6 separate regions of the Homo sapiens genome follow, and all the other regions are reported to be linked to region 2. The links are microRNA targets in miRTarBase. Many come from high-throughput screens and were not tested one by one. Region 2 holds a microRNA gene; each other region holds the end of a gene's coding sequence.
The links. Region 2 holds the annotated microRNA hsa-miR-4650-5p (UCAGGCCUCUUUCUACCUU, at 1,365-1,383, shown strand). A microRNA usually pairs through its seed, bases 2 to 8, with sites in the 3' UTR of a target mRNA and lowers its output. Matches are read on the target gene's strand: a 7mer-m8 pairs with bases 2 to 8, a 7mer-A1 pairs with bases 2 to 7 and ends in A, and an 8mer does both.

Region 1 (5,085 bases), not on the chromosome of region 2:
GCCTCGTTAAATGGGGAGTGACCAGAGGTGGAAGGGGCAGGACCAGAACCTTCGCAAAAGAAAGAGCTAGACCTAGAGCTCTGGTCCTGGCTTGGCGAAGAATGGGAGAGGTCAAAGGTGGGAGCGAGGCCGCTGACTGGTGAGTAGAGCCCCACCAGAGCAGATGAGCTGGAAGTGCAGCAGAGTTAGAGCCTGGGCTGGACTGTCGGTGGGGTAGAGTCTAAGTTGTTTCCGGTCTGAGCCTTCAAGTTGCTGGGCTGTCCTTGGCGTGGCGAGTCCCAGGAGAACCAGTGAGACAAGACTGGTGGTTCTCAAAGACTCATATGTCCCTTACAGGCGCCTGCCCCCGCAACCGATTCGACCACTCCCTAGATTTGGTGAGACTAATTCCACCCCATTTTCTTTCTCCTACATGCCCACTCCCCACCCCTCAATTCCTGAGTCTGAGCCCTTGCTGGGAGCAGACACGTTGGTCACCTTCTCTCCATCCTTCAGCTCTGTCCCCCCCACATAGCTCCACTTGTGAAAACCGAGCCCCAGAGGCCAGTAAAGGAGGAAGAGCCCAAGATTCCAGGGGACCTGGACCAGGAACCGGTAAGGGCATGGGGATGGGAAGGGGATAGCCAGAATCTCTGAGGAAAATGGACCAAAAAAAAAAAGGCCTGAACCCCAAGGAAGACTGTGGAGACCATCTTGTCTTCCTCCCCTTCCTCCTCCAGAGCCTGCTCTATGCGGATCTGGACCATCTAGCCCTCAGCAGGCCCCGCCGGCTGTCCACAGCGGACCCTGCTGATGCCTCCACCATCTATGCAGTTGTAGTTTGAAGGGAAGCCCTTACTCCAAACCTCCCAAGCTAGGGGATCCCAGCTCCCCATAATCCCTCTCCCCTCCTTGGTTCCTCACCTGGAAGAGGAAGGCACCATGGTATAGAAATAAGTGCTAGACTGGGAGTTGGGAGACCTGGGTTCCAGGCTGTCTCTGCCACTGGTCTTACTTCTAAACTTACTCCCATCTCTCCTATAACCTCCATGTCTCCCTCACCACCAGTGTCCTCTCTATACCCAATCAAGCCCTAGCTCCTTTTTTTTTTTTTTTTGAGACGGAGTCTCGCTCTGTTGCCCAGGCTGGAGTGCAGTGACACCATCTCCCTCACTGCAAGCTCCGCCTGCCGGGTTCACACCATTCTCCTGCCTCAGGCTCCTGAGTAGCTGGGACTACAGGCGCCCGCCACCACGCCCAGCTAATTTTTTGTATTTTTAGTAGAGACGGGGTTTCACTGTGTTAGCCAGGATGGTCTTGATCTGCTAACCTCGTGATCCACCCGCCCCGGCCTCCCAAAGTGCTAGGATTACAGGTGTGAGCCACCGCGCCCGGCCTGATTCTTTAAGCTGTTTTTCTTTGTTGCTGGTGTTTTCTTTTTGGACTCCTCTTCCTTGCTCCATATCCCTACAGTATTTCCCACCATTCTAGGTTTGTCCCTTTCTCTTCTTCTGGGACACTCTCATCAACAGTCAGTCCTCAGCCCCCTCCTCTGCAAATGACACTCAGAACTCTCTCTGGCTCAGATCTCAGATTTGGGATTAACAAACTTCCACTTAGACATTCTGCCTGACTGACCTCAGGCATTTCGCACTCTGAATGTCAAACCCAACTCATTGTCATCTCTGAAGCTGCTCACTTAATTCTCCTCTGTATTCTCTTTAACAACCCAGTTGCCCAACCCAGAAACTGGGAGTCACGCAGACCTCCTTTCTCTCTTACTCCCACACAATGAGCCATGAAGTCCAGTCTTTCTATCTTAACATCACTGTCAAACCCACACTGTATTCCATGCCCAGCGCTGCCACGTGAATGTACTCTGCTCACTTCCTTCCTGGATTACCCATAGCCCCACCTCATCCTCCTACCCTTGCTTTCCTCCCTGAAGTCAGAGAGATCCTACTCAAGAGATAACTGCTCCTGACAGCCCTTATTACAGAACTGAAGTACTCTCCTTAGCTTCAGCTCTGTGCCCACGTGCCTTGGCTTTGGATACAAGGTACTACAGCACTTTGTCCACTCTCCAGGCTTACCTGTGTCATTCCACATGCACATCTTAGAAAATGCCAGCCTTAGAGAATTCTCCCTAGCCCCAAAATGTCTTTGCCCAGTGCAATTCCTTCTTCCTGTATTACCCCTTTCCCTCCTTCACACTATCTGCCTGGCTAATTCTTATTTATCCTTAGTTCAAGTATGGCCTTTTCTGGGAAGGTGACCCTCCTTGGCCACCCCTTGCATATACTTTGATGCCCTAGGGCGCACCCCCTTTATTTCCCTCATAGAAACAGCCTTCTGTAAATTGTTCCATGACAACCTGTATTTCAATTTGTAAGAAATTTGCATGTACTGTGAGCTCCCCAACGTCAGGAGACTGACCCTTTTGATATCATTGCTAAGCCTCATTAAATGAATGAATGAAAATGAATGTCCCTGGAAGTGTCATTTCTTTTTCTTTATCAAATAGGGGTGGACTGGTAATCTACCAGTCTCTGAATCATCTAACATTTAGATAAATTCAGTGAGCAATCCACCCATACACTCTTTTCTCTGCCCTGGACACACTTCCCATGATAGAAATTCTGTCTTGTTCATCTTGTGCTCAAGTACCTATGACATGGTTGGGCAATGAGTTGATAAGTACCTAACAAGATTTTTGAATAAGAGGCCTTCTTCCCTGCACTGACCCCAAACTCAGGTTTCAGCCCTGCCCTATCCCTTTGCCCCAGTAAGACACCAGTCACAGCCCAGTCTAAAAGGTCAATTCTATTTTATTGGTTCTGAGAGGGAGGATTCACCCAGTGGATCCTTTTCCCTACACTCTCCCCTCCCCCAATATTGAGGCTCTCTCCCAACTACTGCCTATTCAGCATTCTCTATCTAACCCTCCTTCCCCTTCTACTTCCTATACTATCCTACCCCTGGCCAGCAGTACCCCAAGGCCAGGCCCTCAGCTGTGGGGGCGTGTGCTGAGCACCAAGCAGAGGGAGCTGAGCCCGGCGCCAGCCTTCTCCAGTTCTGAGCAGGACACAGGTACCAGGGTGACATCAGAGAGCTTCTGCAGTGCCTGCACAGGGAAGACATGGAGTGGGGAGAGGGGAGTGAGACCTCAGGCTGAGCCAGGCCACTCTTCCAGCCAGCTCAGAGTGGCCCCACCCAGGCTTCTAGAGAAGGTACCCTTCCTTCCTCCCACTAGGAAAGCCTGAAACTCTTTTCTCTGATGGTGCTTGGTGTTGGAGTTCCTGCCCTCTCTCACCTCCTGGCTGTTGGGCAGATCCCCACCTCCACGGTGCAGGAGGAAAGGGGGCACACCAGGCAACCCAGGACGAAGAAAGAGACAGTCAGCAGCTGCGTCATCTGGGAGGGTCAGGGAGGCATATGGGTGATCTGTCAGCACTGCCATTGCCTAGAGGAAAGAGGAAGTGTTCGAGTCTCAGAACCTCTCCACAGCTGTGTCTGCCTGCTCAACCACCACTAAGGGCTGGGGACGGACTGACATTTGTGGAAAATAATGACAGCAAGCACATAGAGCTTACGATATGTCAGACACTAAGTACTTTAGTTACCTTTGCTAATTTCCACCTTGGAATCACATGCAGTTATTTTCAACCCCCTACCTTCCCCAGCCCCTCCTATCTGTCCTACCCATCCTTAGAGTCACAGTTTAGGTGCCACCTTTGGGGTTTCCTGAAACTCCGGAAGAGCAAATTAATCACCCCTGTTCCCAGTCCTGCTGTTGTAACTTCTTATTTTCTCCTGTGTTCTTTCATGTAAGATGGACAGCCCATTGAGGGCAGGGGTTAGGGCTAATTTCCTAAGCCTCCCAGCTCCCGGCCTCCCGGGCCCAGAACTGCGCCCACTTTCGTTGGCCCCGCCCCCTCCTCACCCGGACAGCCTTTTGGGCAGCGTCGCTGCTGCCTGCCACAACAGTGCGAGGTCCCCCCATGCCGCAGAGACCGCGCAGGTGGGAGGGACCCGAGACTGGCACAGTGGAGACGGCGAAGTCCTAGGGAGAGCGAAGGGAGGTATTCAGGGGCGCGGGAGGGGTGATGGGGTATCTTCAAACATAGGCTGCTCTCTGCCTCTCATTTCCTCAGCGGGCGCCCAGGCCCTTCCGACCCCCACCTGCACCCCCTCCCTCCCTAGGCTGGTCCCGCTCCGCACCCGGAACGTGTCCGCCACGATCTCAGCTCCTCGGTGATTGGTCCATTTGGAGAGGCCTACGAAAAACTCCCGGCCTGAGTCCGGGAGGCCGCGGAGGTTTGAGGGCGGGAGTGAGTTAGAAACAAGGCTCCAGACGGCCGAGTCTCCCAAACTCTACTTCCCTGTGCCAAGACCTATGCCTCCCCCCAGCCTCACCGGTGAAGAGAACGTCAGTGCCATCCAGCGTCGCGTTCTCGTCTCCTATTTCCACAATTCGGAGCCCCAGGTCTTGCAGGGCTTTGCGGACTCCATCGACCTTAGGATAGGAGAAGAGGGCACGGAGCTGTGACACCCCCATCCTCAATTCTTCCCCAAAGCCCCGACATCCAGTTCCTTCTGCCTTTCCCCATACCACACCCGCGCCACGGCGCTCACCTCTGGCCTACGAGCGGGGCTCCAGGGCCGCGTGATTAGGGCCGTGTCCCCTTGGATCACGGCCGTGTCGCCAAGCAGCGGTCCCAGCGGCAATGACTCCTCAGGTGGCAGTTCTAGCAGCTGTAGCCCCAGTCGTTGCCTCAGTTTACCTCCCAGCACCCCGTGCTCCCTTTGAGCTTTGGCCAGATCCAGAGCGGGAAGGCCAGCCCCCGCACCTTCCCCCGACGCCAGGCTCTCTGGGACTCCCCGGATCAGGGCATGGGAGCAGCGGCCCAGCCCCTCCCCCGGCGTCCCCATCCCATCCACACAGACTCCCCCTCCAACCGCTCGGATTTCTTAGTTTTCTTGTTTCTTCACCTGTCTGGGAGAAGAAACAGAAAAGGAGGAGACAGAGAAAAAGACATGCAGACAAGGGCGTTGGGGGTGGTTAAGAGCGCCCAGGTCTTCCTCCTGCCATCTCTAGGCGTCCCT
Region 2 (5,000 bases):
ATCAATCTTTGAGTGTAAGATCTTGAAGAGCAAGAATCCTGTTTTTCTTTTTATCCAGCCACACAGGCAGATATTAAAGCTACTTTTTAGGAGATATTGTTGATTTCAGCAGACAGAATTTTTAAGGGAATATAGGCCAAACAGATGCTTGCAATGATGTGGCTTAGTGATATATAGAAAAATCACAAGTGTCTAGACTTCTGTTCACTTCTGTTAAAAGTGGAGAGGCTCTGACCAAATGTAGGACAGAGGTGATTAAGATCCTGGCAGGCTCTCATTGCTTTAATGCCTCTGCAATACCGATGTACTAAGGGGATCCTTTGAAGTTCAGGTAATGTGTCACTACTGAGCAAAGCACGTTAATTACTGAAAATGTAAAACAAAAGCATCAGTAATAACAGCATTCTGTCTCATCACCCCTTTGCTGAGTGCCTCTTTAATAAAAGACAAGCTATGCTTCCTTAACTGGATTTCTACTTAAAAAAAAAAAAAAAAAAAAAAAAAAAAAAGGACTGTCTTAATGGTTACTGCTGGCTATCATCATCTGATAACTAACAGGACTTTGTCAAAAGCTTCCTGATGCAAAATGAGAACTGCCCTGACCTTTTCACTATGCTTCCATAACTACTTAAGATTATGAACAGTACATTCCAAAGGCCATACTCCTTTTACAAACCTCTATCATTTACAAAATAGGAAGGCCTGGACACTGATACTACTACTAAGGAATTCTAGCCTATACTAGATGTCTGAGATGCTACACCCAAGGAAGTCCAATAAGGAATTCTAGTCAATACCAGATGTCTGAGATGCTGCACTCAAGGAAGTCTACAGATCTCTCGTCAAGGAGCAGAGGAAGAATGGAGAAGAGGAAAAGGTCCCCAGGAATTACAGAGCTCATTTCTAAGGGGCTCAAAATTAGCAAAGAGACTTTTGGAGATGTTTTCTGAGCTTTAGGGATCTTATTTCTGCCTCACACTGGTCTCTATTCACCCAGAAGAGATAATGAGGCTCCCAGTAGAGTCACTTATCTGTCTCTATTCTATACAGGATAACAAATGTTCCCAAAAAGCAAAAAAGTCTTACATCATCAAAATCACCATAATAATTCCTGTATCTGAGAATCTCACAGCACTGCTGGGAGTAATTAAAAAGGATATCCTCTGCTCTCCCAAAAAAAGACAATATTTAAGATAGACAACCTTAAGCCCAATCCTCTGTACAAATGCCCCAGGATTCTTGATGTGAGTACTGTAAGGACCCTTCATCTTAATTTTAAATCTCTGAGTGAAGAATTATCATATATAAAAATGTGCTGATGAACATAAAAATCCCTCTCCCATGTTGCCTTTCTGTAGAGATTATCAGGCCTCTTTCTACCTTCCAAGGCTCAGAAGGTAGAATGAGGCCTGACATATCTGCAGGAAAAAAAAGGAGAGAGATTTATGTTTGTAAGAAATTCAAGTAAACAGTGACTTTGAAGCTCCTCCTTGGGATAAAAAAAAATAAGCAGAGTGACCCAAACAAGCAATGATATTAAAACCTAAATCTCTAAGACAATCTGGGGCTGTCAGAACAAGCCAAATAGCTCAGGAGGAAGAGAGGAGGAGGGTGAAAGAGAAGGAGAGAATTATTTACCACTCACCGAGCTGGCACACTCTGCCGTGTGCTTTACCCTTCTTGATCAGTTCACTGAATCCTCACAATAAAATGACCATGTAGTTGCTACTTATGCCCATTTTAGAGACGATGAAGCTGAGGTTCAAAAGGTTAAGTAACATGTGCAAGGATCTATAAAGAATAAGCATCAGGCCGGGCACAGTGGCTCATGCCTGTAATCCCAACACTTTGGGAGGCTGAGGCAGGAGGATCACCTGAGGTCAGGAGTTCGAGACCAGCCTGGCCAACATGGTGAAACCCCATCTCTACTAAAAAATACAAAAATTAGCCAGGCATGGTGGCGCATGCCTGTAATCCCAGCTACTCAGGAGGCTGAGGCACAAAAATCACTTAAACCCAGGAGGCGGAGGCTGCAGTGAGCCGAGATCACGCCACTGTACTCCAGCCTGGGCAACAGAGCAAGACTCCATCTCAAAAAAAAAAAAAAAGAAAGAAAGAAAGAAAAGAAAAACAGTAAGCATCAAGGAGATTCAAGTCCAGAGATGAACCCAGAGCCTTTCTCCTAACCCTGCACCATGATGGCAAAATCCACAGTGTGGCTCAGTGTTCAAGTCACAGCGGTTACATGTAACAAACAGTATTCCATAAATGAAAAATCCAAGAGAATACGGATGATCTGTGAAATGCAGATTCTGACTGCAAAGTCCTAAGAGAAGCCAAAACAACAAGTCCTCAGGAAGAAATTCTGAACTTAATTCTCTTCAGGGGCTTATGCACTTCATTCAACATTTATTCAGGGATTACTACGAACTGGACACTGAGGCCAAGAGGCTCAGCCCTTAATATTTACATTCTGGAGGGAACAGAAGATGGATGAGAGTCCCACCACGCAGCGCCATGACTAAGGTGGGGAAAATGTAATGGGTATAAATGGAGGAGTGAGTTGATTTTGCTTGGCAAAATCATACAAAAGACGTAACAAGGTCAAAGTCAAAGCTGATCTCTGAAGGACACAGAGTTCATCAGGAAGAGAATGAGATCATTTCCAGGGATGTCCAAAGAAGAAATGCAAAGGCCCGCAGCTGTGAGATGCAGCAGGATAAAGGAATCACAAACTATCCCCCCATGGCTCTAACATGGCAAATGGAATTGGGGGATGCCTGCAGCCAGGTCTCATGTCCTGCCAGGGTTAGGTTTGGCTTACTGAAGTTTTATGTAGCCAGTGACACAGTCAGATCAGTGCTGATGAAAGTCACGTGGCTCCAGTGTGATGGACGGATTAAAAAGCCAGCACAGTGCACCGTTCTGCATCTGGCTCCCCTGTGCCTCCCACTTATCACCAATCCAACAACCTCTTAACCACAATTTAAAAATCCAAAAAGCTCTAATAACCGAAAGGTTGCTTTTCTAAGTTGGGAGACATACTTACCTCAAAGTAGAATCTGACTTACAAAGCTGTTTGTATTCTTAATTTTTCTTTTCTTTTTTTTTTTTAAAGACAGAGTCTTGCTCTGTCACCCAGGCTGGAGTGCAGGGGCGTGATCTCGGCTCACCACAACCTCCACCTCCCGGGTTCAAGCAATTCTCCTACCTCAGCCTCCCAAGTAGCTGGTTCTACAGGCACGCACCACCACACCTGCCTAATTTTTGTATTTTTAGTGGAGATGGGGTTTCGCCATGTTGGCCAGGCTGGTCTTAAACTCTTGGCCTCAGGTGATCTGCCTGCCTCGGCCTCCCAAAGTACTGGGATTACAGGCGTGAGCCACTGTGCCTGGCCAAATTTTTCCATTTCTGTGACTAAGCATACTTTATTGTAGAACTAATTACATGTGTGTGGCTCTAGGGTGGTGGAGATATTCCATAAAATACAGTGGATAAACTGTATTGTCTTTCTAAAATTCTGAAACACTTTTGGGCACATGGGATAAGAGATTGTGAACTTGTAGAAATCATTCCATATCAATACATAAAGAGCTTTTACACTTTTTTTTTTTTTTTTTTTTTTTTTTTTTTTTTTTGTGAGACAGAGTCTCGCTCTGTCACCCAGGCTGGAGTGCAATGGCACAATCTTGGCCCACTGCAACCTCTGCCTCCCAGGTTCAACCGATTCTCCTGCCTCAGCCTCCGGAGTAGCTGGGATTATAGGCACCCACCACCACGCCCAGCTAATTTTTTGTATTTTTAGTAAAGACAGCGTTTCGCCACATTGGCCAGGCTGTTCTTGAATTGACTGCAGGTGATCCACCTGCCTCAGCCTCCCAAAGTGCTGGGATTACGGGTGTAAGCCACCACGCCTGGACCTTTCTTTGATTTTCTAACAACTACAAAGAATGCACTTTGTGATTTCTCTTTGATATCCTGGTTATTTAACAGTGTGTTGTTTAATTTCCACATATTTGTGAATTTCCCAAATTCTAGTTTGTGAAGTTCTTGGTCAGTATTTGTTCAAATATTCTTTCTTCTCATTTCTCTCTCTCCTGTCCTTCTGGAATTCCCTTTATAAATATGTTGGCATGCCTGAAGGTGCCCCATGGGTCTCTGAGAGACTTCAGTGATAGTCTATTTGATGAGTCATCATTTTCATACTTTTGTTTCTTTGAAAATGTTTTTCTGGCCAGGTGTGGTGGCTCATGCCTGTAATCCCACCACTTTGGGAGGGCGAGGGGGGCAGATCACTTGAGGTCAGGAGTTCAAGACCATCCTGGCCAACAAGATGAAATCCTGTCTTTTCTAAAAATACAAAAATTAGCCAGGAGTGCCACATGCCTCTAATCCCAGCTGCTCAGGAGGCTGAGGCAGGAGAATTGCTTGAATCGGGGAGGCGGAGGTTGCAGTGAGCTGAGATTGTGCCACTGCACTCTAGCCTGGGTGACAGAGCAAGATTCCATCTCAGAAAAAAAAAAAAAGAAAAGAAAATGCTTTCCTGTAGTTCTTTGAACACATTTAAAATAGCCAATGTCAAATCTTTGTCTAGTAAGTCCAACATCTAGGCTTCCTTGTAGATGGATTCTATTCTGTTTCCTTTCAACTGTATAGGACACATTCTTGTTTCTTTGTATATCTTGTCAGTTTCTTTAAACACTAGACATTTTCTTTTTATTTATTTTTTGCGACAAGGTCTCACTCTGTCCCCCAGGCTGGAGTGCAGTCGCATGATCATGGCTCACTGCAATCTTGAACTCCTGAGCTCAAGCAACCCTCCTGACTCAGCATCCTCAGTAGCTGGGACTACAGGCATGCACCAAAACACTTGGCTAATGTTTTAATTTTTTGTAGAGACAGGGTCTCACTATGTTGCCCAGGCCAGTCTCAAACTCCTGGCCTCAAACAACCCTCCCGTCCCAGCCTCCCGAAGTGCTGGGATGATAGACATGAGCCAC
Region 3 (5,075 bases), not on the chromosome of region 2:
AGCAGATACAGAACTCTTCCCACTTACTTTCTTACCCTTGTGTGTGTCTCCCCACAGGGTTACAAGTGTATAACAAGTGTTGGAAGTTTGAGCATTGCAATTTCAACGACGTCACAACCCGCTTGAGGGAAAATGAGCTAACGTACTACTGCTGCAAGAAGGACCTGTGTAACTTTAACGAACAGCTTGAAAATGGTGGGACATCCTTATCAGAGAAAACAGTTCTTCTGCTGGTGACTCCATTTCTGGCAGCAGCCTGGAGCCTTCATCCCTAAGTCAACACCAGGAGAGCTTCTCCCAAACTCCCCGTTCCTGCGTAGTCCGCTTTCTCTTGCTGCCACATTCTAAAGGCTTGATATTTTCCAAATGGATCCTGTTGGGAAAGAATAAAATTAGCTTGAGCAACCTGGCTAAGATAGAGGGGCTCTGGGAGACTTTGAAGACCAGTCCTGTTTGCAGGGAAGCCCCACTTGAAGGAAGAAGTCTAAGAGTGAAGTAGGTGTGACTTGAACTAGATTGCATGCTTCCTCCTTTGCTCTTGGGAAGACCAGCTTTGCAGTGACAGCTTGAGTGGGTTCTCTGCAGCCCTCAGATTATTTTTCCTCTGGCTCCTTGGATGTAGTCAGTTAGCATCATTAGTACATCTTTGGAGGGTGGGGCAGGAGTATATGAGCATCCTCTCTCACATGGAACGCTTTCATAAACTTCAGGGATCCCGTGTTGCCATGGAGGCATGCCAAATGTTCCATATGTGGGTGTCAGTCAGGGACAACAAGATCCTTAATGCAGAGCTAGAGGACTTCTGGCAGGGAAGTGGGGAAGTGTTCCAGATAGCAGGGCATGAAAACTTAGAGAGGTACAAGTGGCTGAAAATCGAGTTTTTCCTCTGTCTTTAAATTTTATATGGGCTTTGTTATCTTCCACTGGAAAAGTGTAATAGCATACATCAATGGTGTGTTAAAGCTATTTCCTTGCCTTTTTTTTATTGGAATGGTAGGATATCTTGGCTTTGCCACACACAGTTACAGAGTGAACACTCTACTACATGTGACTGGCAGTATTAAGTGTGCTTATTTTAAATGTTACTGGTAGAAAGGCAGTTCAGGTATGTGTGTATATAGTATGAATGCAGTGGGGACACCCTTTGTGGTTACAGTTTGAGACTTCCAAAGGTCATCCTTAATAACAACAGATCTGCAGGGGTATGTTTTACCATCTGCATCCAGCCTCCTGCTAACTCCTAGCTGACTCAGCATAGATTGTATAAAATACCTTTGTAACGGCTCTTAGCACACTCACAGATGTTTGAGGCTTTCAGAAGCTCTTCTAAAAAATGATACACACCTTTCACAAGGGCAAACTTTTTCCTTTTCCCTGTGTATTCTAGTGAATGAATCTCAAGATTCAGTAGACCTAATGACATTTGTATTTTATGATCTTGGCTGTATTTAATGGCATAGGCTGACTTTTGCAGATGGAGGAATTTCTTGATTAATGTTGAAAAAAAACCCTTGATTATACTCTGTTGGACAAACCGAGTGCAATGAATGATGCTTTTCTGAAAATGAAATATAACAAGTGGGTGAATGTGGTTATGGCCGAAAAGGATATGCAGTATGCTTAATGGTAGCAACTGAAAGAAGACATCCTGAGCAGTGCCAGCTTTCTTCTGTTGATGCCGTTCCCTGAACATAGGAAAATAGAAACTTGCTTATCAAAACTTAGCATTACCTTGGTGCTCTGTGTTCTCTGTTAGCTCAGTGTCTTTCCTTACATCAATAGGTTTTTTTTTTTTTTTTTGGCCTGAGGAAGTACTGACCATGCCCACAGCCACCGGCTGAGCAAAGAAGCTCATTTCATGTGAGTTCTAAGGAATGAGAAACAATTTTGATGAATTTAAGCAGAAAATGAATTTCTGGGAACTTTTTTGGGGGCGGGGGGGTGGGGAATTCAGCCACACTCCAGAAAGCCAGGAGTCGACAGTTTTGGAAGCCTCTCTCAGGATTGAGATTCTAGGATGAGATTGGCTTACTGCTATCTTGTGTCATGTACCCACTTTTTGGCCAGACTACACTGGGAAGAAGGTAGTCCTCTAAAGCAAAATCTGAGTGCCACTAAATGGGGAGATGGGGCTGTTAAGCTGTCCAAATCAACAAGGGTCATATAAATGGCCTTAAACTTTGGGGTTGCTTTCTGCAAAAAGTTGCTGTGACTCATGCCATAGACAAGGTTGAGTGCCTGGACCCAAAGGCAATACTGTAATGTAAAGACATTTATAGTACTAGGCAAACAGCACCCCAGGTACTCCAGGCCCTCCTGGCTGGAGAGGGCTGTGGCAATAGAAAATTAGTGCCAACTGCAGTGAGTCAGCCTAGGTTAAATAGAGAGTGTAAGAGTGCTGGACAGGAACCTCCACCCTCATGTCACATTTCTTCAATGTGACCCTTCTGGCCCCTCTCCTCCTGACAGCGGAACAATGACTGCCCCGATAGGTGAGGCTGGAGGAAGAATCAGTCCTGTCCTTGGCAAGCTCTTCACTATGACAGTAAAGGCTCTCTGCCTGCTGCCAAGGCCTGTGACTTTCTAACCTGGCCTCACGCTGGGTAAGCTTAAGGTAGAGGTGCAGGATTAGCAAGCCCACCTGGCTACCAGGCCGACAGCTACATCCTCCAACTGACCCTGATCAACGAAGAGGGATTCATGTGTCTGTCTCAGTTGGTTCCAAATGAAACCAGGGAGCAGGGGAGTTAGGAATCGAACACCAGTCATGCCTACTGGCTCTCTGCTCGAGAGCCAATACCCTGTGCCCTCCACTCATCTGGATTTACAGGAACTGTCATAGTGTTCAGTATTGGGTGGTGATAAGCCCATTGGATTGTCCCCTTGGGGGGATGAGCTAGGGGTGCAAGGAACACCTGATGAGTAGATAAGTGGAGCTCATGGTATTTCCTGAAAGATGCTAATCTATTTGCCAAACTTGGTCTTGAATGTACTGGGGGCTTCAAGGTATGGGTATATTTTTCTTGTGTCCTTGCAGTTAGCCCCCATGTCTTATGTGTGTCCTGAAAAAATAAGAGCCTGCCCAAGACTTTGGGCCTCTTGACAGAATTAACCACTTTTATACATCTGAGTTCTCTTGGTAAGTTCTTTAGCAGTGTTCAAAGTCTACTAGCTCGCATTAGTTTCTGTTGCTGCCAACAGATCTGAACTAATGCTAACAGATCCCCCTGAGGGATTCTTGATGGGCTGAGCAGCTGGCTGGAGCTAGTACTGACTGACATTCATTGTGATGAGGGCAGCTTTCTGGTACAGGATTCTAAGCTCTATGTTTTATATACATTTTCATCTGTACTTGCACCTCACTTTACACAAGAGGAAACTATGCAAAGTTAGCTGGATCGCTCAAGGTCACTTAGGTAAGTTGGCAAGTCCATGCTTCCCACTCAGCTCCTCAGGTCAGCAAGTCTACTTCTCTGCCTATTTTGTATACTCTCTTTAATATGTGCCTAGCTTTGGAAAGTCTAGAATGGGTCCCTGGTGCCTTTTTACTTTGAAGAAATCAGTTTCTGCCTCTTTTTGGAAAAGAAAACAAAGTGCAATTGTTTTTTACTGGAAAGTTACCCAATAGCATGAGGTGAACAGGACGTAGTTAGGCCTTCCTGTAAACAGAAAATCATATCAAAACACTATCTTCCCATCTGTTTCTCAATGCCTGCTACTTCTTGTAGATATTTCATTTCAGGAGAGCAGCAGTTAAACCCGTGGATTTTGTAGTTAGGAACCTGGGTTCAAACCCTCTTCCACTAATTGGCTATGTCTCTGGACAAGTTTTTTTTTTTTTTTTTTTTTAAACCCTTTCTGAACTTTCACTTTCTATGTCTACCTCAAAGAATTGTTGTGAGGCTTGAGATAATGCATTTGTAAAGGGTCTGCCAGATAGGAAGATGCTAGTTATGGATTTACAAGGTTGTTAAGGCTGTAAGAGTCTAAAACCTACAGTGAATCACAATGCATTTACCCCCACTGACTTGGACATAAGTGAAAACTAGCCAGAAGTCTCTTTTTCAAATTACTTACAGGTTATTCAATATAAAATTTTTGTAATGGATAATCTTATTTATCTAAACTAAAGCTTCCTGTTTATACACACTCCTGTTATTCTGGGATAAGATAAATGACCACAGTACCTTAATTTCTAGGTGGGTGCCTGTGATGGTTCATTGTAGGTAAGGACATTTTCTCTTTTTCAGCAGCTGTGTAGGTCCAGAGCCTCTGGGAGAGGAGGGGGGTAGCATGCACCCAGCAGGGGACTGAACTGGGAAACTCAAGGTTCTTTTTACTGTGGGGTAGTGAGCTGCCTTTCTGTGATCGGTTTCCCTAGGGATGTTGCTGTTCCCCTCCTTGCTATTCGCAGCTACATACAACGTGGCCAACCCCAGTAGGCTGATCCTATATATGATCAGTGCTGGTGCTGACTCTCAATAGCCCCACCCAAGCTGGCTATAGGTTTACAGATACATTAATTAGGCAACCTAAAATATTGATGCTGGTGTTGGTGTGACATAATGCTATGGCCAGAACTGAAACTTAGAGTTATAATTCATGTATTAGGGTTCTCCAGAGGGACAGAATTAGTAGGATATATGTATATATGAAAGGGAGGTTATTAGGGAGAACTGGCTCCCACAGTTAGAAGGCGAAGTCGCACAATAGGCCGTCTGCAAGCTGGGTTAGAGAGAAGCCAGTAGTGGCTCAGCCTGAGTTCAAAAACCTCAAAACTGGGGAAGCTGACAGTGCAGCCAGCCTTCAGTCTGTGGCCAAAGGCCCAAGAGCCCCTGGCAACCAACCCACTGGTGCAAGTCCTAGATTCCAAAGGCTGAAGAACCTGGAGTCTGATGTCCAAGAGCAGGAAGAGTGGAAGAAAGCCAGAAGACTCAGCAAACAAGGTAGACAGTGTCTACCACCATAGTGGCCATACCAAAGAGGCTACCGATTCCTTCCTGCTACCTGGATCCCTGAAGTTGCCCTGGTCTCTGCACCTTCTAAACCTAGTTCTTAAGAGCTTTCCATTACAT
Region 4 (5,085 bases), not on the chromosome of region 2:
TTTTCTTTGGTAGAACTTCTGTCTCCTCCCCTCTAGGAGGATCACCATCTCACATTTTAAAAGTTAGGTGCTCTTTGTATGCGAGGATTGGGATTGTTAGGGGCCTGTGTTCGTGATGATCACTATCATGGAGTCATTTCTTGTTGGGAATTGTTAGAGGGTAAGATCAGAGATAGGTACTTAGTTCAAGAAGACTCTCTGAAGCTCCCAAACTGTAGATATGTCCTGTGTGCGAACTGGCTGGCTTTACAGAAGTCCTGATGGAAGTGGGTTTATTGTTTTTTGACTCGTTACCAACCCTCTGCTTACTCCTTCCCCTCAAAAAAGGGAAGCTGACTTCTCAGGTTAGCCAGCAGCTCACTCATACTTTTTTCTCTCTCTATTCCATTGGCTGATCTGCTGACTTGGGGCTCTGAATCTGGATACTCTCCATCACCGGTTGGCTGCTGTCACCATTTCCTTCCTCGTTGATGGCACTACTAGTGGTCAAGCAGAGGATGCAGATGTACAACTCACCATACCACCGGGTGACAGACTGTGTACGGGCAGTGTGGCAAAATGAAGGGGCCGGGGCCTTTTACCGCAGCTACACCACCCAGCTGACCATGAACGTTCCTTTCCAAGCCATTCACTTCATGACCTATGAATTCCTGCAGGAGCACTTTAACCCCCAGAGACGGTACAACCCAAGCTCCCACGTCCTCTCTGGAGCTTGCGCAGGAGCTGTAGCTGCCGCAGCCACAACCCCACTGGACGTTTGCAAAACACTGCTCAACACCCAGGAGTCCTTGGCTTTGAACTCACACATTACAGGACATATCACAGGCATGGCTAGTGCCTTCAGGACGGTATATCAAGTAGGTGGGGTGACCGCCTATTTCCGAGGGGTGCAGGCCAGAGTAATTTACCAGATCCCCTCCACAGCCATCGCATGGTCTGTGTATGAGTTCTTCAAATACCTAATCACTAAAAGGCAAGAAGAGTGGAGGGCTGGCAAGTGAAGTAGCACTGAACGAAGCCAGGGGTTCAGATGACACTGCTGCATCCTGGTCACATTCTCTGTCTCCTGGAATGCTCCCACCTCAAGTGGAGTTAGAAGGAAGGTAGAGGGGCTCTCCCCCAGGATTTTGGTGTTTTGACTAACACCAGTTCCTGCCAACCTCTGTTGCCACCACCTTTCCTTCCAGGCCCTAAGCACGTGCAGCAAAGCACACCACAGCACCTTTGATAACCTCTCTCCATCCTGGGCCTGATGACCTGCTCTAGACTGTTATAGAGGGATAAGCAGCTCATTCCCCTGGTTCCTAATAAAAAGCCTTTAAATTAAATGGTTTCATTGGGTTTGTCTTGCTAAAGGGGAAGTGAAATGCTGTTAACTGTTCTTGACTTTCCTTTAAGCATAAATCAAGGGACCCAAAGGAAAGGTTTATTGAGTATGTCTGTAGTTTTCTGCTGATTTTCATGACAATTTAAGACATTAGTGGTAGGCCCCAAGCAATCTCCCTGATGGCTAGAACAACAAGCCCTTGACAGATCCCAACCAATCAGATGCTCCAGATCCCCACTGTCTTCCCTAGGGCGGTAGCGCAGCACAGAAGGGGCAGATCTCTGCTCTAATTCGCAGCTCTGCCTGCAGCAGTGCTTTACAGTGTGGCACTTGGTTTTCCATTTTAGTTGTGAAACTCAAATTATTCAGTGAAGCTGCAAGTCCTGAAGATTACATGGTAAATAATACATTTCATTTTATTTTAAGGCTTTCACAGAGTACTTGAGCATGTGTGATCTCATTTGAACCTCACAAAATCTCTGAAGTAGGCAGTGCAGGTGTCATTTGTATTTCACAAGCAAGAAAGCTCAGAGGCTGTGACTAGTCCAAAGTCTCACAGTCAGTGCAGAAGTGGGACCCCAGCCCAAGTGTTTTGACCTCACGAATGAATCTAAGCGTGGCTTCCTACAGATGGGAAATGAGTGGAGGGCATCTCACATCTACTGCCATCTACTGAGGAAGCTCCCTGCCTGATGACCAGTTAGGCTCTGCTTGGAGACTTTTCAGAGATGGGGCTTTCCCTGTGCTTGGTGGGTCAGTGTGTTCCTTTTTTTTTTTTTTTTTTTTTTTTTTTTTTTTATATATCACCAGTTATTAGCAAGTTCTTCAGTACATAGAAATGTACCCCTCTGAGTCTTCCACCTATCCTTGTTAGGTCATCTGTCATTCATTCATTAACTATTGAGTGTCTCTGTGGCAAGCACTGGTGTTGGAAATACAATGATAGATAAAAACAATCCCAGCCCTCAAGGAGCTTACTGTCTGGAGAGGAAGATACATGGAAACAGGCAATTACAAAACAAAATGACAGGAGAGAAGATAGAATAAACCTAGGATACTCAGAAGACAGAAGGATACCCAGCGTAGCCTTGGGTGACCAGGGTAGACATTTGGAGGAAGTAACATCTGAGGTGACACCTGGAAGGCAAATGAGCTAACTTGGTGAAGAGGGGAGGGGTTATGTTCTAGGCAAAGACCTGGAGGTAAGAGAATTAAAAAGTATTTGGGATTTGGTGTGCAAGTGGTTTGGTAGGACTGAAACAATCTGGGCAAGACATGCAGCCTGAGAGCCAAGCAGACACTGGGTCTTCAAAGCGATGCTATGGAGTTTAGATTTATCCTGAAGGCCATGCAAAAGCATTACGGAGTTTTAAGCAGAGGTGTGGTGTGATCAGATTTACAATTTAAACAGATCACTTAGGCTCTCTGGAGAAAGGATTAGAGGAGCAAGACTGGACAGGCAGGCCAACTGGTTAGGAGGCTGCTGTGGTAATCCAGGCAAGTGCATGGTGGTCTGAAGCAGGACTGTGGCATGGAGCCGGGAGCCATGTTAGGGTTGTAGAAGCAATAGGATTCGGTCACAGAGTAGATCTCGTCCTCCTCCCATCTGACAGCCCTTCAATATCTATGGAGAATCATGTCTGAATGCACTTGAAAAAAAACTGTCGAGAAACCAGCAGGGTCTCCTAAGCTTTATTTAAGTAGGCTATGCTGCCCCTCTGATTTAGCGTGGAGAGGAGAGATTAATAGTGCTAAGCGGTGGTTGCTGAGTAAAAAGAGTGTGATGATATCATTGTAAAGGTCATTTCAGAGGGTTTGCTAGTAAAAATGTAATTGAGTAGCTGCCTCCCATATGGACTGAGCAAGAGAGCAAAGGGATGGCTGTCAGGACCTAGTCTCTGCGGTCGGCTTTACAGAGCTGTCTGGCATGGTATCTGACACACAGTAGGCACAATGGCAATAAGGCTTATTTTTCAAGAATGGATTGCGGGGTAATTTCTTAAAGATTGGTAGCGGCTAGAGACCACCTCAGCTCTAATGCTGTTCACAAATAATGAGAAAAGAATACAAAAGTGATCTTCCAGCCTCCAGTTGTGCTGTAGCTACTGGAGGACATTTAGTTTGGAATCTGGACAGGACACTAGGTTCTGCAGGTCTCTTGGCCCAGTCACTAGAGGTCAAAGGGGAGATAGAGGCAGAATAATGTGACAGGTTGAACATTAGCAATGCCAGTGACTGGATACCTGGGTCATTTCCAAGGGGCTCAGCAGACCCAGGAGAACTGTGGGTGTTTGGGGGCATCCCCAGGTCCAGAGCCTCTGTGGAGAGCCAGGTAGTTCATGTGACACCTGGAGAATCCAGTACCAAGCCATCATCAAGTGGCCAATTCCTGCACAGTGCTATGTGTCAGGGAAAATGAGAAAATAAGTCACAATTTGGCCAGAGGAAAATGTTCTTCATTGGAGAGCTGAGACCAACATGAGTGAAACAAACTTTTAATAACACAAGACACTATATAGACATGTACTGGATTATACAGAAATTAACAATGAGATTTAGAGACAGGAAAGATAAGTGTAGGCAGAGTAAACAGAGAAGAAGGTGGCTTTGATGAATAGAATTAAAAAATACTTTCGTAAAAGCCAATAAATGTTGAATCATGCTAATTTCATAAAATTTAGAAAGCACAGATAAAAAGAAAATACTTCGAATCCCATTACCCAGAGAACTTGACCTTCTAACAGACAGAGCTTTGCAGCAATGACACGGATAGCATTGCACAGCAGCGAGCTCTAAAATACAGGAGCTGGGGCTGGTCAGCCCTGCCAGGGATGCTATACAGTGAAGTCGAACTCCTGGAGGGTTGCAAAGCAAGATGACCTCTAAGAAGCCTCCTAGATCTAGATGTTCTCAGGGCCAGCCTCAGCCCCACTATCCGGTAACCTGCGTCCTGGTCTCCAGGCCGGATATCTTCAATGCCTGTCAGGAGATGGTGCCAGACTGTCTCACCACTCTGAACTTTCTCTCTCCACCAACCTATCTATCCTCCTTTTGATCATTCAGATTCTACCTACCCATAGCAATGTTTCTGATATTATAAAGGTGCCACAGGGGGCCGGGCATGGTGGCTCGAGCCTGTAATCCCAGCACTTTGAGAGGCCAAGGCAGGCAGATCACTTGAGCCCAGGAGTTCGAGACCAGCCTGGCCAATATAGTGAAACCCCATTTCTACTAAAAATACAAAAATTAGCCAGGGTGGTGGCATGCACCTGTAGTCCCAGCTACTCGGGAGGCTGAGGCACAAGAATCACTTGAACCTAGGAGGCAAAGGTTGTAGTGAGCCAAGATGGTGCCACTGCACTCCAGCCTGGGTGACAGATCAAGACTCTGTCTCAAAAAAAAAAAAAAAAAAGTGCCACAGGGGACTTATTGAATAAGCTATTGATATTATTGAACATTCATACAATGAAATGTGGCATGCCATTTATACTGAGATGATGGAAGAAAATTTAATGATGCGGAAAGATAGACACTGTATTCTGTTATGTGAAAGAAATTGGTTATAGTGAGATCTCATTTTTGAAAATTACAAAAAAATTATACATAGAAAAAATACTTAATGATATATACATCAACCTACTGGATGTGCAGTATTTTGTTATTTCCTGGAATCTTAGACTGGTAAGTGGAGAACAAGTTCTGTTGGAGTCACACACAGTATTCCCTTTATTGCCACCACCGCCACCACCACCTCTGCC
Region 5 (5,085 bases), not on the chromosome of region 2:
AAATGGAAACAACAGTGAAGGACTCTTGGCAAGGAAGGGACTTGGTCCCACATGCCTGAGCGTAGCTTTCGCTGTTCTGTGGAGAAAGTCAGGAAAGGGGATTTGCGAGGTGTTTAGCTTTCCACAGGGCAGGGGTATGGACAGCAGAGGATGGCACTGCTCACCGCTTCCCCAACTCCTGCAGGATCAGCGACATCCGACTCTTCATCGTGGATGCCCGGCCAGCCATGGCTGCCACCAGCTTTATCCTCATGACTACTTTCCCGAACAAAGAGCTGGCTGATGAGAGCCAGACCCTGAAGGAAGCCAACCTGCTCAATGCTGTCATCGTGCAGCGGTTAACATAACCGCCCAGCCAGCTGCCTGGCCTCCCTCCTGTGTTTCCCATGGCCAGTGGCCATGCCCCATGGGGATCGCCCCTCCTGCCCCCTTGTGCACACCCAGCAGTCCAGTGCAACGTCTCCTCCATAGCTCTGGGTTCTTAGATCTTGGTTGGACGTTTGTTTTCTCCTTAGTTGCATTTCCTGGGTTTTTGTGATGATCAATGGACTTTAATGAAAAAAAAAATAAAAACAACCAAAAAAATTGAAGGAATATCACCAGCATGTTGTACGGAAACTCTCCCACTGAAGCAGGCTTTAATTGCTTTAAAATTATATTTATCTTGGGGCCTGTGGGAGGAAACTTCCTTCCATCTTCTCTGCATAAAAACTTGTGGCACACAATGCTTATTCACTAGTGTGTCCCACCCGCCAGCCCCACAGATGACTGGAGGAAGGAGGGGAAATGTGTAGAAAGAGGCTTCGCCACCACTTGTTCCCACGAGAATATGTCACTTGCCCAGATAAAACTGGGCGGCAGCCAGAGTTCCCTGAAGTGGGAAGTCAGAGCTCCATGCACACAGTGTCTTCAGAAGGTGAAAATAAATATTTCCCTGTGCTCCTTTTACTCAACCCCTGGGGTATCTAATCTTGCCAGGTCTTGGCCAGTTGAGATTCTGTTCCACCTGCCTGCCTGGCCCTTTCCTCCATTACCATCCAGACTGCTCGCCTCCTGGGGATTCTCAGGGGCTCCATTATGGCTTGATTTACTCCACGTGCAGAAGTCTTGAGTGGACCTAGGAGGTAGGTGGGATATTTTTTTTCACTAGGATACAGCTCATGCCAACCCATCCTAAGTGAGTTCAGAATCAGGGTATCTTGCCCTATAAGATAAACAGTCAAAATGCCACCGAGCTGTTCACTAGTGATGTGTGGCAAATCAAATCAACTGTTGAAGAAGGGGTGAGTTTTCTGTGCTACAAGCACCTGTCACTGTTGGTACTTGCAGGAGGCTTCTGCTGGGTATGTTTTGGAAGTGAGTGTCACTACTTGGCTTTGCTTAGCAGGTTCTGCTTCACACTTGTTCTTTGACCTGCTGACTTGTGACTTGCAGAAACATAGGCAGTAGTCCTAGCCTGGTAAAGACCCTCCACCACCCCTATAAGTTTGATTGCTATGCAGGTTTGGGAGAGGAGGCCTATTGGGCTCTTGGATGGAACCCTTTCCCGTATTAAACAAACCAGAGACAGAATCAGTGCTGACTCAGGATCTCCTGGTTTGGAATCGTAATGTGCCTCAATCCTCTTTCCAAGCAGGCCTCACCAGTCTCTTTCTCTTTCCTGCTTCACCCCTGCAATGAGCCAAGAACCAACACTACATCCACCTAGAACTGCAGAAGGGCTTGTGGTTTCAACCAAGACCCATCCTGAGCAAGGGACTTGGCTTGGTGCTTTTGATCCCAAAGTTCCCACACCGGCAGTGGCCTGCTGGGGCAATGGCATCTGTCACGGTGTTTTCTCCAGCAGGTGGAGATTATGGAACCTACATATGGGTCTGGAAAAACTGTACACTGTTGTCACCTTGACCATTAAAAACCAGAATGAGGACAATGGAGTTTTGTACTTTCTAATGGGTTGCTTTGACGGAAACTACAGCAGCCAGCAGAAGTACTTAAGTGCTTCACAAAGGTCCCACTTTACAGTGCAAAACCTTGAGCCCCAGTCACACTGCTAGTAAGTGGTAAGGTACTGCCTCTTCCCATCCAGAGCCCACGTTCAGCCACCATGGAGTGCAGTATACACTCCATCCCTAACTGCCAGGCCCATATACATACACTTGACCTCCCCCTACCTCCTTCTCACAGTGTCTGCTTAATTAATTAGTATATTGCAGAAGAGATTGTAAAAACACCCACTTAAAACCTGTATCATCTACGGTAGTTTGCACAGGGCCCCCAGCACCTCTGGGAAGTAAGCGAGGCAGGTGATCTAACTCTTACCTATATTGTTGATGCAGCCACCACAGTTGAGAGACAGTCCCTCTGACCTTGGACCAGGGATCACACTGGTCTGGTTCCAGGCTGGGGAAGGATGTTCCCAGCCCTAGTTTTCTGTTTTGGGCAGTCCAGATGGAAAGGCCCATCCACCCAGATAGGTTTTCACAGGTTTAGAAGAAAAAGGATACTCAGCCACTGGTTCCGGGGCTTCTGAATTCAGTTCTCAACTGGGGCATTTTGGATCTCCCCAAAAACTGGTTGGTAAGAGAACCTCCTGGCATTAAATGGGCCAGGACAAGGATGCATGTCAGTTCATTGGATATGCCTTGATAGATACCCAAAACTCATCAAAATGAAAAATAGGCAAAGTAATTGTCATGATGCCCTTTCTAAAAGTGCAGTTTTAACTAGTCTTTGCTGTGGGATGTGGGTTGTTTGATCTTGTTAACAATCATGCCCAGCAACCCTGTAGGTAGAGTCTTGCACAGATCCGGCTGCTTCCTCAGTAGAAGGCCAGGGAAGAAGCAGGCATGTGGTCAAGAGCTAGGCATGGCTTTAATGGCGTTCCAAAGTGTCTTCCAGAGGGGCAGCGGCCCTTTTCATACCCATCCATAGGACAAAGCATGCCCTTCCCTGCCAGGAGCTTAAAGATGACTTAGAGCTCATTCAGGGGAAGCAGCTGGTACAGAAATAAGGGTTCCCTGCTGCTCCCTGTCTCCTAACTCCCAGCATTTCAGAGAGAACTGCCAACTCCTGATTCCCAGGCCCAAATAAAAGGCCTTCCTTCTTTAAATGGGCGTTGGGCTCCTGTGTTGAGGGTGTGTGGCTGGGGATCCCAGTCCCCCTCTTCCAGGCCACACTCTTCCCAGGCCAGGACAGGGAAGCAGAGTAGAAAACACTTTTTGACTTGTAGCATCTGACCCAGGTCCCAGTCTGAGCTCCTGCACTGTGACTGTGCCTCTCTGTTTCGGTGGCCTCATCTCATGCCATGTCCAGTCCATCAGCAATCCTCTGGGTGCCCCTGGTCACCCCTCCCCTACGATCATCTGGGCCAGCCTCCGTAGTCACTCACCTATGACTGCAGAATCTCATCAGTCCCCCAGCTTCTGCCCTTGCCCCACCCAGGCAAAGGGCTTCTTTGGCACCATTAACCACAGCCTGCCACTCCCATCCTTTAACGTCCTTGGGAGCTTTCCATTACCCCTGGAAACTTCTAAGACCTGCAGAGCCCCATAGGCCCTGGCCCCTTCCCACCACCCTCCATCCCTTTGACCTGCTTCATTTTTCTTCTCTCTGCTCCATCTAATATGTACTCTATTTATTAACGTGCTTGTTTCCTTGGTCCCCCCACTAGCTTATAAACTCCATGAGGGCAGAAATGCCTGTTCCTCACTCTTGTATCCGGAGCAGGTGGCATGGTGTCTGACGCATAGTAGATCCTCAACAAGTGCGTGCTTGGATGAACCTGTGAAATGGAGACCAGACCTTATCTAAAAGGATGGAAGGCAAGAAGGCTTTTAAAGCACCCCCATGTGGTGCCTGCTTGGGAACTGCAGTCCCTCCTCCCAAAGCAGGTTCTCAGCCATGAGGGGGCGTCCTAAAGGGCACCTAGAGCCACAGGGTGTTCCTGCAACAGGTGCTAAGAAGATGTGTCTGGGGTAGGAAGCGGGTGTGACAGGAATGTCCCCAGTCCCTTCTTGCCCTGTCTCAGCTGGACCAAGAGGTTTATTAAGGGCCAGTTACCCTCCGTGTTGAGCAACTGAGAACCTCAATGCCAGGACTAGGACTTGCTACTACTAATCGTAATAGCAGCTGCCATCATTTGAGCACTCACTTTGTGCCAGGCCGTTTGTGCCTTAACAACCCAAGGGTACCATGGTTAGCCCACTATGGAAGAAGTTACTGAGGCTTAGAGCGGTGATGGGACTTGCCTGAAGCCACACACGGAGTAAGAGGCATTTGAATCCCCAACTACCTGAACGCAGAGCCACAGCCCTTGACCCCGAGGCTCTACTGCTGTGAAAAAGGCAGGCACAAAGGCAGTGGCAGGAGGGACGATTGGGTCGGGCAGGGAGGGACAGGGAAAACGGAAGCGGACACCCTTGAACTGGGTTGTGAAGGGTGATTAAAGGTTGGTTCTCTGACGAAAAGGCAAAAAAGTTGTCCTTCCTCAAGAGACAAACTCAGAGGGCATGTGGAGGCTTGGGGCAGGCTTTGAACTTAGGTTCCATCTTATACCAGGCATGACCTTAGACAAGTCACCTAAGCTTCTCTGAGCCTTGGCTTCCTCATTCAGAAAACAGGGATAATGGTAGTTCCTACCTCTTAGACTATGGGGATTAAAGATGTCTGTGAAGCCCTTGACGCATAGGAGGAACTTTATGAATGACAATAGGTGCTGCTGTGTAGCCCTTACCATGTGCCGGGCGCTGTCAAACACTTGAGCATGATCTCATTAATTCTCAACACTCCTGTGAAACAGGTGCTTTTATTATTCACATCTTTACAGAGAATGAAATTGAGTGCCTTGCACGTGGTAGACAACCTGGCCATTAAACGTCTATTGGTTAAATGATCGGAGAATCAGAGAGGAGAAAGCAGTCAAGGACACACTACTAATAAATGACAACTGAGTTTGAACCAAGGGCCATCTAACTCCATCCTCCTGGCCTGGCCTCTGTACCATGAGCTTATTTTAAGTCAGCTCTGGGTGAACCACCTGCAGCAGGAAAAGCTCAGGCTTAGGAGTCAGCCTGCTGGGTACTAGCT
Region 6 (5,085 bases), not on the chromosome of region 2:
CGGGGAGCTGTGACAGGTGTTTGGGGGAGGGGAGGGGGGTATGATAAGCTGGGACAGCTGCACCCACCGGTGCTCTGGTGAGATGGGGGGCCCGGATGTTGGGGAGACACATCTGCTGGGTTCCCAGCCCAAGGTCCCCAACCCTGGCTGTCTGGCCTTGTCTGTCACCCCCCGTGCCCACTGGCAGGGACAGGAAGCTCCCCCCCCCACCCCGCTTTGGGCAGTTTGCCTTGGCACGGGCCTGATCTGTTTTCCTCCCCAGAGCAGCTGCTGTTCTGTCTGCTGGGCAGAGGGCTGGGTTCCTCCGAGGTAGGCAGGGGCCTCAACCCAGAGCCCCTCTCACACCCTCTCTCCAACTCAGGCTTATGTCTCTCCCTCCTCCCCCACCCCCACCCCAGGAAGAGGAGATCCCAGAACTGGAGATTGACGTGGATGAGCTCCTGGACATGGAGAGTGACGATGCCCGGGCTGCCAGGGTCAAGGTGAGGGGGCTGGGGGGCGATGGGTTGCCTGAGGCACTGCCCCGGGAAAGTGAGGCTGTGGAGCCAGGCCCTCAAGCCCCAGCTCCTGCCTCAACAGAATGGGGCCAATGCCTAGCTGTGAGGTTGTTGTGGCATCTCCTGTGCCTCAGGGTGGCCCCAGTCTCTTGGAAGTGGGTATAGGCGAGCTCCAGGCCCCCACTCCTGAGGACTCACTTATCCTTCCTCCCCCATCCTCTGCTAGGAGCTGCTGGTTGACTGTTACAAACCCACAGAGGTAAGAGATTTCCTGGGGGGCTGGCGGGGGTGGCAGGGTGAGGGGAGCCCGGCTCCTGTCATCTTGGGGTCTGGTCTCCTTAATGTTTACCCTCCCACCCCATCCAGGCCTTCATTTCTGGCCTGCTGGACAAGATCCGGGGCATGCAGAAGCTGAGCACACCCCAGAAGAAGTGACGGTCCCCGACCCAGGAGAACGGTGGCTCCCACAGGACAATCGCTGCCCCCCAACCTCGTAGCAACAGCAATACCGGGGGACCCTGCGGCCAGGCCTGGTGCCATGAGCAGGGCTCCTCGTGCCCCTGGCCCAGGGGTCTCTTCCCCTGCCCCCTCAGTTTTCCACTTTTGGGGTTTTTTATTGTTATTAAACTGATGGGACTTTTTGTGTTTTTATATTGACTCTGCGGCGCGGGCCCTTTAATAAAGCTAGGATACGCCTTTGGTGCAGCTAACAGGCTCGGCTGGTCTCTTTTAGGGGGGCACACTGCTCTTTGACTTCTGCCAGCTCAGCTTCTCCCCAGGTGACCACAGGCCTTCCTAAGGGCCACGTAGCCATGACGATAGCCCAGTGCTGGCTCCCAGACCAGGAGTTGAAAGTGGCTGGGGAGCTGTGGGGGTGGGGGGAGCAGTATTGCTGTTGGCAGGCAGGAACACTCCTTTCTCTCTGGGCAAGGGCCACCATGTCATTGAGCCTAGACCCCCAAGGCTCCACAGTCGGGAAAGGAGAAGGTGGTGGGGTATGCTGGAGCTGAGGTCTCTGAGTCTCTCAGGGCCCACAAACACACACAGGCTTACTCCTTGGGCTTTTAAGTGTTTTTTTGTTTGTTTTTGTTTTTTGTTTTTTTTTTGGAACAGTCTGGTCCCTGATGGGGGCCTCTCCCCCTGCCCCTCCCCAGTCTGGTTACAGCTCAGTTCGTCGCTCTATTTTGAGCAGCTCCACCTCGAACACCAGGGTTGCACCACCTGTAGGGGAGAAGGGGAGTCAAAATGCCAACCAGGGCCACAGGGAGGTGGGCTGGCTGCAGGTGATGGGAGGTATCAAAAGGTTTACTACCTGGAATCTTTGGGGGAGCTCCCCGCTCTCCATACCCTGTTGAAGATGCACAAAGAAACAGTCAGTGATGGCCAAGCTCCCTTCCAGTGTGGGCAAAGGGAGAGTGTTCCGCCCCTCTCAGCAAGAAGGCCAGAAATGGAGAAGGGTAATGGAGATGGGAAGGGGGTGCCAAAGGCCTGGCAAGGGCAGAGTGGGGCCACTACAGCTGAGTGCTTCAATGATCTTGCCCTGTACTCACTGCTAGACACAGCCAAACTTGGAGGAGGCATGTATTGTAATGAATGGATACGGTGAAGACCAATGAAAAGCTGAAGCAGCTTTCACCCTTCCCAGTCACACACCCCAAACTCGCTCTGCACCCTCAGGAGGGGCCTCTTACCTAGCTCGGATGGGATCACCAGCTTGCGCTTTTCCCCCTCACACATCCTGCAGGAAGACACATGCTCAGCCCATGGCAGCACCCAGGGCCCTTGTCTTGTATCCCTGGGGCTTGCCTCCCACAGCTTACCTCCTGGGCGGTGGCCATGCACGCCCCCACTCCCAAGCCCATTCCCCCATGACTCACCCCAGCAGCCCCTGGTCCCAGCCCTTGATGACCTGGCCTGTGCCAAGGGAGAAGACAAAGGGCTGGTTCTGGGGCAGGCTGCTGTCAAACTCTGTCCCATCTTCCAGCTTCCCCTGTGGAACCATGAGAAGGCCAGTGAGGAAGAGGGGACCACCCCTGACACCCCCTCCCTCAGCTGCTTTCCCCATCAAGCTGCCCCCCCACGCCCACCCACAGCCCTGGTGGTCAGTCCTTTTTGTTTTTTGAGATGGAGTCTCTGTTGCCATGGCTGGAGTGCAGCGGCGTGATCTCGCCTCCCTGCAGCCTCTGCCTCCCGGGTTCAAGCAATTCTTCCACCTCAGCCTCCCAAGTAGCTGGGATTATAGGCGCCCGCCACCACGCCTGGCTAATTTTGTATTTTTAGCAGAGAAAGTTTCATCATGAGGCCAAACTGGTCTCAAATTCCTGACCTCAGGTGATCCACCCGCCTCGGCCTCCCAAAGTGCTGGGATTACAGGGGTGAGCCACTGCGCCCAGCTGGTCATAGTTCTTTAAGAGGACAGAGCCTTGGGCAGCTCACAGTACACTGTCACTGCCTGCTGGTGCCCACCTGGGCAGTAGGCAAGGGCAAGGCAGAACCATGGAAACTGGCTTAGAGGCGAGAGGGGACTTGCCCAAGGTCACCTACCTGGCTTATGGAGAACCAGACTCCCAAGCACTCTCTGGTCCTCGGAAGCCCCACCCACTCCCAAAAGGCCCGCCCAACCCACTCACCGTGTAGTGCATGTGCAGGACATCCCCTTTGCGCGATTTGATGGGACAGTGGTCCACCCGCTTCTTGACCCCGATCTGCAGCTTCCTTTTGCCCTCGGCCCCCGTGGCCGTGGCCACGGCGCTCAGGCAGATGGACAGTACTGTCAGGACCCGGAACCAGCTCAGCCTCATGTCTCTGTGGGCACAGACCCCGACCGACCGACTGAACGTGGGGGAGGGCAGGGAGAGTATGGAACACGGGTAGGTAACAGGAGGGTTCCACCGCCACTGTATCTTCCTTGCCCCGGGGGATCCCCTTTGTCCCGGGTCACCGCCCTCTCCCCCGGGCTCCGGGGCCACACTTACCAGTCCAGTGAGAAGGGGGCTTGGCCGAGGACCCCAGCAGCGGGGGGAGGGGGTCAGGGGAGGCCACAGCAGCCAGGGACCCGCCCCTTTGCTCACCCCCATACCTTCCCTCCCTCCCAGTCCCCACCTCCGCTCTTCAGTTCCCGCCTGTCCCTTTACGCAAAGTCCAGACCCTATCTGGCTGCACTGCAGTTGCCCCGACTGGGCGGCCCCACTCACGCCACACCCAGCTGCCCCCGGTCCAGCACACCAACACCTCTGCGGCCGCTGCAGGGGGCCGGCCCCGAGGCACCCACACATCCCCACTGGGTGGCTCCGAGGAGCCCGGGTCCTCGGGAGATACCCCCCAGCCTGGCCCTGTGCTTCCGCCCGGGGCGCCGCCCCAACTCTGAGCCCTTGGGGGTCTCCGGGGCACCCAGACTGGCCCTGTGTCTGCTGGCCGCCGAGCCCGCTCCACCCACACCACCTCTCCCGGTGGAGTTCTCGGCCTACGGCGTCCCCAAGCCCGGCCACCACGGAGACCACCCCCGCGAGGACGCCCGGGGCCATTACTCGGGCCAGGCTCCTCACTTGGCTCCTTGGCACCGCCCTTCGGAGGACGCGGTACCGCCCCCGGGCCTGCAGCCCCGCCTTCGACAGAACTAGACCCCTTTTCCGGAGCCGTAGCCACGCCACTCACCGGCTGAAGCCCCGCCCCCAGCGCCTCCGCTCCGTCCCCCTCTGCTTCCGACCCCGAGGCTCCGCCTTTCACCTCCTCCAGCTCCTCCTTCAAGAGCCAGGCTCCGTCCCCCGACCCTCCTAGCTCCGCCCCCCGCCGCCGGGCTCCGCCTTCCACTGGCACCAGCTCGGAGGTCCCACCCGTCCCGGTTCCACGTCCCGCCCCGAGTCCCAGGACTCCGCCCCGTGCGGCGTGAGAACCCTCCCCCTGCGGCATCTCCGGACAGCTCCGGCCCCCACCCCCAATTTCCTCGTCACCTAGCTCTCGTTGACACTCGGAGCCCGGTCCGCTTCTGCCCGGCCTGATCCAGCCTGCCCTCTTGCACCCCGGCTCCCCCCAGCCCGGGCTGTGGCCCCCGCTCACCTCCTCGCCGCGCCCCCGGAGTCAACCCCGGTGGTGCTGCCGCCTCTGCGCAGGCGCGTCCTCGTCGCTACCAGGCCGGGCCACGCCGCCCTCCCTTATTGGACCGTGCGAAACCCGCGGCCACACGCCCGCTGGCACGGGTCTTTCCCGAGCCCCGCCCCCGCGACGCCGCTGCCCTGCGTCACTTCCGGCGGAGCGGTAGTCTGTAAGGTTAGGTGAAAGTGACTTCCGAAAAGGCCGGAGACACTTCCGGCCGAGGTGATAGTAAGGTCAGGCGGGCGTGGGTTCCCGGAGGGGGTCTTGAGGCGCCATTTCAAGTCGCCCCCAGCCTCTCCCACAGCACTCCTGTTTTCCCGGGCCTCATCATGGCCCACGGCCCTCAGTCGCTGTGGAGCCTGGGCTTCACAGTGACACTCACGTTTGAACTCCCGGTCGGCTGTGTGCTTGGTAGAATTTGTCATCCAATACAGGCGTGTAACACGGGCTTGATGACACCCACCCCACAGGGCCCCTGCAGGACCGAGATGATGTC

Region 1: the mRNA of MPIG6B is a reported target of hsa-miR-4650-5p. Seed matches in the 3' UTR shown: 7mer-A1 at 1,373-1,379.
Region 3: the mRNA of CD59 is a reported target of hsa-miR-4650-5p. Seed matches in the 3' UTR shown: 7mer-A1 at 1,801-1,807 and 7mer-m8 at 2,570-2,576.
Region 4: miRTarBase lists SLC25A28 as a target of hsa-miR-4650-5p. Seed matches in the 3' UTR shown: 7mer-A1 at 1,247-1,253.
Region 5: miRTarBase lists NSFL1C as a target of hsa-miR-4650-5p. The part of its 3' UTR that is shown has no 7-base or 8-base seed match.
Region 6: the mRNA of PPP1R14B is a reported target of hsa-miR-4650-5p. Seed matches in the 3' UTR shown: 7mer-m8 at 1,024-1,030.

What each region holds. Positions count from the first base shown.
Region 1 is chr6:31,724,251-31,729,335 of GRCh38, forward strand. It overlaps MPIG6B (megakaryocyte and platelet inhibitory receptor G6b), which reads left to right. Exons shown (of 6, transcript NM_138272.3): 4 at 337-377; 5 at 515-594; 6 at 720-2,464. The coding sequence ends at 824. DDAH2 (DDAH family member 2, ADMA-independent) reads right to left here and starts at 5,049. Exons shown (of 6, transcript NM_001303007.2): 1 at 4,615-5,049; 2 at 4,396-4,495; 3 at 4,201-4,274; 4 at 3,923-4,042; 5 at 3,293-3,442; 6 at 2,790-3,103. The coding sequence starts at 4,911. The coding sequence ends at 2,987.
Region 2 is chr7:72,696,553-72,701,552 of GRCh38, forward strand. It overlaps MIR4650-2 (microRNA 4650-2), which reads left to right and starts at 1,351; the gene lies at 1,351-1,426. All of the region lies in intron 10 of TYW1B (tRNA-yW synthesizing protein 1 homolog B), which reads right to left.
Region 3 is chr11:33,705,326-33,710,400 of GRCh38, reverse strand. CD59 (CD59 molecule (CD59 blood group)) reads left to right here. Exons shown (of 4, transcript NM_000611.6): 4 at 58-5,075. The coding sequence ends at 275. It also overlaps a transcript of C11orf91 not described here. Among named protein-coding and RNA genes, the nearest start is that of C11orf91, 7.0 kb to the right of the region's middle.
Region 4 is chr10:99,606,765-99,611,849 of GRCh38, reverse strand. SLC25A28 (solute carrier family 25 member 28) reads left to right here. Exons shown (of 4, transcript NM_031212.4): 4 at 484-1,328. The coding sequence ends at 1,001. Among named protein-coding and RNA genes, the nearest start is that of SLC25A28, 11 kb to the left of the region's middle.
Region 5 is chr20:1,439,011-1,444,095 of GRCh38, reverse strand. It overlaps NSFL1C (NSFL1 cofactor), which reads left to right. Exons shown (of 9, transcript NM_016143.5): 9 at 185-1,930. The coding sequence ends at 347. Among named protein-coding and RNA genes, the nearest start is that of NSFL1C, 25 kb to the left of the region's middle.
Region 6 is chr11:64,240,601-64,245,685 of GRCh38, reverse strand. PPP1R14B (protein phosphatase 1 regulatory inhibitor subunit 14B) reads left to right here. Exons shown (of 4, transcript NM_138689.3): 2 at 399-482; 3 at 724-756; 4 at 864-1,207. The coding sequence ends at 932. It overlaps FKBP2 (FKBP prolyl isomerase 2), which reads right to left and starts at 4,591. Exons shown (of 6, transcript NM_004470.4): 1 at 4,554-4,591; 2 at 3,128-3,302; 3 at 2,375-2,487; 4 at 2,189-2,235; 5 at 1,810-1,845; 6 at 1,554-1,718. The coding sequence starts at 3,298. The coding sequence ends at 1,657. LOC114841035 reads right to left here and starts at 4,591. Exons shown (of 6, transcript NM_001370414.1): 1 at 3,473-4,591; 2 at 3,128-3,302; 3 at 2,375-2,487; 4 at 2,189-2,235; 5 at 1,810-1,845; 6 at 1,554-1,718. The coding sequence starts at 4,406. The coding sequence ends at 3,609. RefSeq lists enhancers at 1,978-2,878, 3,781-4,681, 4,963-5,082, 4,682-5,085 and silencers at 3,393-3,632, 3,663-4,682.